2 linked regions of the Homo sapiens genome follow. The protein of the gene in region 2 interacts with the protein of the main gene of each other region in a biochemical or structural test. Each region holds a gene or a part of one and is shown on either strand. Other genes may lie near its edges.

Region 1 (3,735 bases), about 45 Mb from region 2:
CCCATATTTGTAGTTTTAAAAGGATCCTGGCAGGGCGCGGTGGTTCATGCCTGTAATCCCAGCACTTTGGGAGGCCGAGGCGGGCGGATCACGAGGTCTGGAGACCATCCTGGCTAACACGGTGAAACCCCGTCTCTACTAAAAATACAAAAAAAATTAGCTGGGTGTGGTGGCGGGCGCCTGTAGTCCCAGCTGCTCTGGAGGCTGAGGCAGGGGAATGGCGTGAACCCGAGAGGCGGAGCTTGCCGTGAGCTGAGATCGCGCCACTGTGCTCCAGCCAGGGCAACAGAGCGAGACTCCGTCTCAAAAAAAAAAAAAAAGGATCTTAAGTATTTTGTCTGACTCTGCCATTTAGTTTATTCCTTTGTTTACCTGCCCAATGGAACTGTTTGCTTGTAACTACACATTAATATAACTAAATTTTGAACTTAATGTTACATGCCTTGCTATACATGGGGCTCTTTGGGGACATGCTCATTTGTGGGATTAAAATTTCCAAGACGGTTTGAAGTTTGTAATTACTATAAAATCCCTCATCTTTAATCTGTGGAGCTGTAGTATTAAGTGAAGGCCTTGGTATGTTCATAATTACGATAGTCATGTGACTGAAAATCAGGCACTGAAGCTGCTCGTTCTGGGTGTTGGTCTCAGTTTATTGATGCTTCATCCAAATACATTTTTATAGCTAATAATAAAGAAAAACATCAAATACTCTTGCTAAATTGCAATCAGTATGCAGTTTATGCCAAACTTAGCTTGATTTTATTTTTTGAAGAGGATGAGTATGTATATTTAAGCATATGTGTGTGTGTGTATATGTATATATACTTGTGTATACGTATATACGTGTATACGTATATATATGTGTACATATACGTGTATACGTATATATATGTGTACATATACGTGTGTGTATGTGTGTGTGTATATATATATATTTTTTTTTTTTTCTCTTTTGAGACTGAGTCTCACTCTGTCGTCCGGGCCAGAGTGCAGTAGCGCCATCTCGGCTCACTGCAACCGCCGCCTCCTAGTTCAAGTGATTCTTGTGCCTCGGCCTCTGGAGTAGTTGGGAGTACCAGCATGCGCCACTGTGCTCAGCTAATTTTTGTATTTTTAGTAGAGACGGGGTTTCACCATGTTGGTCAGGCTGTTCTCGAACTCCTGGCCTTGTGATCTGCCCCCCTTGGCCTCTGAAAGTGTTGAGATTGCAGGTGAGAGCCACTATGTCTGGCCATATTTAAGCATATTTATGATAGTATCTTAAATTTAAGTGAAGGGAAAGAGGAAAACATACACAGCCAATGAAGTAAGTTTGAAGTGGAGTGAAAGGAAAAGTTGGAGGTAAAAAGAGGTTAGAGAGGTGGGCAGGGGCCAAATCATATAGGGCCTTTAGGACATGGGAAATTCTTTGGATTTGTTCTGAGATTAGAAGTCATTTAGATATTCTTTAGAAAGGGAATGACATGATCTGATATTAAAAAAAAAACTAGAATCACTGTGAGTAGGAGTAGATCTAATTCCATTCTGACTAAATAGTAAACTAATATGATAATTTGGACAAATATAAAAAGGAATTCCTGGCTGGGAGCAGTGGCTGATGCCTGTAATCCCAGCACTTTGGAAGTGCTGGGCAGGTGGATCACTTGAGGTCAGGAGTTTGAGACCAGCCTGGCCACATGGTGAAACCCTGTCTCTACTAAAAATACAAAACATTAGCTGGGCGTGGCAGCAGGCGCCTATAATCCCGGCTATTCAGGAGGCTGAGATAGGAGAATCACTTTAACCTGGGAGGCGGAGGTTGCTGTGAGCAGAGATCGAGCCATTGCACTCCAGCCTGGGAGACGGTGCAAGACTCAAAAAAAAAAAAAAAAAAAAAAAAACGGAAAGGATTTCATAATATTAATTTCCTTGACTTAGTGACTTCTGCCTATTTTATTTGAAGTCATTGGTTCTTCTCTTCTCTTCTCTTGAGACAGGGTCTCACTGTCACCCAGGCTGGAGTGCAGTGAGTGATCTTTGTTCACTTCAACCTTTGTTTCCCAGGTTCAAGCGATTCTCGTGCCTCAGTCTCTAGAGTAGCTGGGACTACAGGTGTGTGTGTGTGACCATGCCCGACTAATTTTTGTATTTTTAGTAAAGACGGGATCTCACCATGTTGGCCAGGATGGCCTTGATCTCTTGACCTCGTGACCCCGTGACCCACCCACCTTGGCCTCCCAAGGTGTTGGGATTACAAGCATGAGCCACTAAGGATTTGTTTTTAAAATTTTTTTGCTTTATTTTTTTCTTCTCTTTTTTTGTACTAGAGATGGTGTCTTGCTATGTTGCCCAGACAGATCTTGTACTCCTGGGCTCAAGTTGTCCTCCTGCCTCAGCCTCCCAAAGTGCTGGGATTAAAGATGTGAGTCAAGCGATTCTCGTGCCTCAACCTACCCACTAGCTCGATTACAGGTGCCATCCACCACCTGCCCACCACCCTTGGCTAATTTTTGTATTTTGTATTTTAGTAGAGACAAGAATTTTACCATGTCGGCCAGGCTGGTCTCAAATTCCTGACCTCAGGCAATCCACCCGCCTCAGCTTCCTGCTGGGATTACGGGCGTGAGCTACCCTGGCCAAGATTTTTAATTTCTGAAGCTTATAGCTGCTCTAAAGCACAAGGATTCAGTCCCATGATTTAAAAAAGTTGCTTGTTTTGACTTCAAGTATATGGTTGAGCATTCTAACTTTTGTTATGTATACATTTTTATTTTACTGTATTCTTCTAGCCATTGTATCCTAGTCTGTATGTTGCAGATGAGTTGTGATTCTCTGGTGTCTCTTCCATGGACCTAGAGATCATATGCTCTACTACTGGGATTTTTTTTTGTAACTTTGTTTGGGATATAGGCTTTGAGAGGTTAAGGAAGTAAATTTAAGATGGATATTTAATGTTGTAACACTTTGTTAATGCTTTTTTCTACAAGATAATTTTATTATGTGATATGGCAGCTTTGTTGGAAATACCTGTTTTTTTGTGTGTGTGGAAAATTTCTTTTCTGGATGAAATCTCTTGTTTAACTTTTCCAGTTATTCATAATGAAGCTCTGTTTATCTTTTGAAGATCTTAAGTTCAGAAACAGAAGGCAGGCTGCGTATGGTGGCTCATGCCAGTTATCCCAGCACTTTGGGAGGCCGAGGTGGGTGGGTCACCTGAGGTCAGGAGTTCGAAACCAGTCTGACCAACATGGTGAAACCCCATCTCTACTAAAAATACAAAAATCAGCCGAGTGTATTAGTGAGTGCCTGTAATCCCAGCTACTCGGAAGGCTGAAGCAGGAGAATCCCTCGAACTTGAGAGGCGCAGGTTGCAGTGAGCCAAGATTGCTGCACTCCAGCCCGGGCAACAGAGCGAAACTCCGTCTCAAACATACACACAAAAAAAAGAAGGAAAGAAAAGGCAGTAGAGTATCTTATTTAAGAGCATGGATTCTGGAGAGAAACTGACAGTTAAATACTAGCTCTGACACTTGATGGCTTGAGACCCTTGGCAGTAGTATGTCTCCTTTGTAATTCAGTTTTTTTCTTCTGTAGAAAGGGAATGGTAAGGAAGCGCCATGAGATTTCAGTGAGAGAGAAGCACTTACCTCAAGTGCCAGACATGTAGCCCTTCAACTAACTTATTTTATTTATTTATTTTTTGAGATGGAGTTTTGCTCTTGTTGCCCAGGCTGGAGTGCAATGGCGTGATCC
Region 2 (3,735 bases):
TAATGTCTTAAGTCAAAATTGACCAGTGCGGTTTTTTTTTAAAGGGGTTCATACATTAATATTAGGAACAATGAAAGACCAGATTTTGCTTTCTTTGTTGCATAGCCTGTAAGGAGCTCAGGGATAAAATTGTAGCCCAGCAGCAGCAGCAGGACATGATCTTACTAACTTCACTCTGTTTTGAGCCCCTCTCTCTTTCTATTCTTCTTTTGATTGCATTTCCTCACTATGTAAAAATAATCTTGTAATGTAGGTATTTTGAGAAATCTCCTTAAATCCTTTCTGTCCTAGGTGGGACACACACACACACACACACACACACACACACACTTTCTCTCTCTCTCTCTCTCACTCTCTCTCTCCTCCCAATCAAGCCAACCAAGTTAACTCTGACTTGAGTACTAACAGTTCCAAAGATAGCACCAAAACAACCTAAGCCCAGAGACTAAATATTTACTAACATAATAAAGGGAAGGCCTCTGAGAGCTCTGGAAGAGCAGCCTTCCCTACAAAACAGTAACTGAAAATATACTTTCCTTCCTCCAAAGATGCCTTCTGCTTGTTCTTCAATGTGTTCAAAGTCAAGAGCACCTGAAAAGTTAGAACATACCACTTCAGATGCAGGAAGGTCTGCAAACATGCTGCTGGTGAACTCATCCATAAGTTTTGCAGGGTAAAGCTGTTGAGTTAACCCCAAATCTCCCAGAACATTATATTGCAAAGCTATGCAGAGTGACTAACCCAGATGACATTAACCACATATTCCACATTCCTGCCCCTTCCTCCCTCACTGCATGGTCCCCTGGTAAAGGACAGCAATGATCTCACTCATGGAAGCTTGGGCTTGGTAGATGGGATTATTTCTACTCCTACCATCTCCCGTCACCACTAGTTCCTGGGCAGGGAAAAACTTCCAAAGTGAGTAAAAGCTGCTAGTGGTCAAGAAGTCTCCTGGAGAGTTTTTTGTTACTGTTTTTATTTTGGTATTTTTGCGGGGGAGGTGGGTAGCCACAATGCTGGAAACCTCAACTGTCTCATCACTAAGACACTCCCAGATGGAAGGAAACAAGATCCAACCCAGAAGGAATCTGGGCTCTATCAATTATTCACTTGCTCAAAAAGAGTAACTGCCAGGATGATGCCCTGGTGCAATAATCCTCAAAACCATTTTCACCCTTTTTCTAGAAGATACTGTTTGCTCTCCCCATTTTCCTTAGAGCCAGGTCCCATTCTATGGCTGAAATTCCATTCTGAATCACTAACCTGGTACATTACTTGGCCCTTCTTGGCTGCTGTTTCCGGAGGATGTTTCTGAAGTCTGGGAATTGCTTTCATCAAACTCTCGCTTAAATATACACAGGAGGCAGGAGATCCTATAATCCAACCTCACATTCAAAATAAACTAAAGATTCAAGTGGAAATGGAAACAGATTGGTTACATTAACATACCATCTTGACTCTGCCAAGCCACCACACACTGGCGGGGCCTGGTATCAGCTGCATCAATTACCTTAAGCACTAAGTGAGCCAAGTATTTGGCTTAGATTTCAACAGTCATTTTAACAACAGCAGACTTCCATGGGGCATATGAAGTCTGCCCATAGCACCTTAGCCTCTAGTGTAAGCTTCAGCATCCTGGCAATTAATTTAACAATTGGAACACTAAATCACTCACTCCTGGCTCCATAAATGGAGTCTATAAAACAAGACTCCATTTCAGTAAGTATTGAATGTCAACTCTGGGCCTAACACTGAAAAGAGTGAAGTTGCCTGCTTTGGATTTAAGAGAATTAACAAAAAAAAATTTGTTTTTTACTATGGAAAATTAGCTTGGTTCCTATTTCCTGTTTCTGGTTGTTTCCCCTGGTTTGGGTACAAACCCTTGGACACCCTCTTCTTTTGCCTCCTGTATTCCCTCACCCTTTATTCCAACACAGGGTCACTTTTCCCAGGATTGCTGCTAGAACCAAAAAGAAAGATTGAGCAGCTGACATCATGTAGGGATCTCACTCACGTTCTTCCTTCCGTTCTCCCCTTGTCTCTGCTTAGCCTCCCAGCAACCTTTCCCAGTCCAGTGGCCATCACCTCTTCCAGAGGGAGATAGGTCTCTGGCCTGCCTCCATGCTCTCAGTGTATGTGTCCTACAGACTGTTGGACATCCTATTTGCTATCTTCCCAGGGCCTCAAACTCAGTGTTTCACAAAAGTAACTGCGATGGTTAATTTTATATGCCAACTTGACTGGGTTCAAGGACACCTAGACAGCTTGTACAACTTTATTTCCGGGTAAATCTATGAGGGGGTTTCCAGAATGGACTGGCATTTGAATCAGTGAGCTGAGTAAAGAAGATCCGCTCTCACCCAGTGTGAGTGGGCACCATCCAATCCACGGAGGGCCTGGATAGAGCAAACAGGTGGAGGAAGACCGAATCCACCTGTTCTGGAGCTGGGACACTCATCTTCTCCTGCCCATCAGAGCTCCAGGTTCTCCGGCTTTTGGCCTCAGACTGAGAGTTACACCTTCAGCTCCCCTGGTTCTCAGCCTTGGGACTCAGGCTGAATCACACCACTGGCTTTCCCGGGACACAGCTTGCTGTGGCAGACTGGGGGACTTCTCGGCCTCCGTAACTGCGTGAGGCCAATTCCCATAATAAACCCCCTCTTGTCTATCTGTATGTATCCTATTTGTTCTGTTTCTCTGGAGAGCGCTAACACACTAACATTGTCAGTCTTGCCTTCATCTACTTTCTGCCTGGGTTTCCTCAACCTCAGTCAGTTGCCTGATCATCAGCGCCTCCTTCCTGGACACACATCTAATCAGAGACTAAGTCCTGGTGGTTCTCCATTTACCGCTTCTCATAGAGTTCTCCCCTACTGCCGTTTCTCCCTGCTCAAGGCCTCATTATCTCCTGCCTGTTCCATTTACAGAACCAAATTCACCAAATCAGCCTCCTAACCACTTGTTCTTATGTTAAGCTCCCGCTTGAAGACTTTCAAAGGCTCAACAGAGAATAAGCCTTAGCATTTTAGACACCCAAAGCTCTGTGCAGTGTGGCTTGGTCCTCCTTTCCAAACTCACTTCTGACAACTTCCCCTCAGCACACTCTATGTCTCTGCTCAGCAAGAACTGCCCACTGACCTGCATCCCATGGTACTCGGCTTCAGGCTGCTCCATCCACCTGAGAACGGGCCCTTGTTTCTCCATGTACAAAGCCCATGCACCTTAAAGGCTCAGATGAAACCCTACCTCCTCCATCAACCCTTCTCTGATCTTTACCATGTGGAGTCACATGACCCCACTCCCGGACTCCAGTCTCAGAAGAACTTTCTGGTGGTTTTATTTCCACATCCACGCAGCTTCATCATACCTTATTCTCCCATCAGACTATAAACCCCTGTGGATGGAGCCCCTGTTCGAATCATTTTTGCATTCCTCACAGTGCACATGGTAGGGAGTCAATAAGTACCCGTGGAAAGAATGACTCAATCGACCAATCCTTCTTAGGTCACCACGGTGAGTGGACCTCAAGATGTGACCAAGTTTTGCACTGCGTCGTTTCTGATAAACGTCCAAGACACCACTTTGGAACACATGGACCATGGCCTGCAAATTTTATATGTATATTTTGTCTCGACAAAAAAAATTGAAAATAAAAGTAAAAATAAAATTTATTAAAAAATAAAGTTTTAAAAAAGGAATCTTTCTCTACTGTTGCTCAGGCATAAATTCAGTAAG

What was found.
Region 1: the proteins of ITPR1 (region 2) and RHOA form a complex in vitro, tested with the Homo sapiens proteins (one study listed by BioGRID).

The regions. Positions count from the first base shown.
Region 1 is NC_000003.12:49,405,381-49,409,115, reverse strand, and holds part of RHOA (transforming protein RhoA isoform 1 precursor), read left to right. Parts: intron 1-2,309; exon of another isoform or gene 2,310-2,404; intron 2,405-3,735. UniProt on the Homo sapiens protein: Small GTPase which cycles between an active GTP-bound and an inactive GDP-bound state.
Region 2 is NC_000003.12:4,678,220-4,681,954, reverse strand, and holds part of ITPR1 (inositol 1,4,5-trisphosphate-gated calcium channel ITPR1), read right to left. Parts: intron 1,403-3,735; coding exon 1,264-1,402; intron 592-1,263; coding exon 537-591; intron 1-536. UniProt on the Homo sapiens protein: Inositol 1,4,5-trisphosphate-gated calcium channel that, upon inositol 1,4,5-trisphosphate binding, mediates calcium release from the endoplasmic reticulum (ER).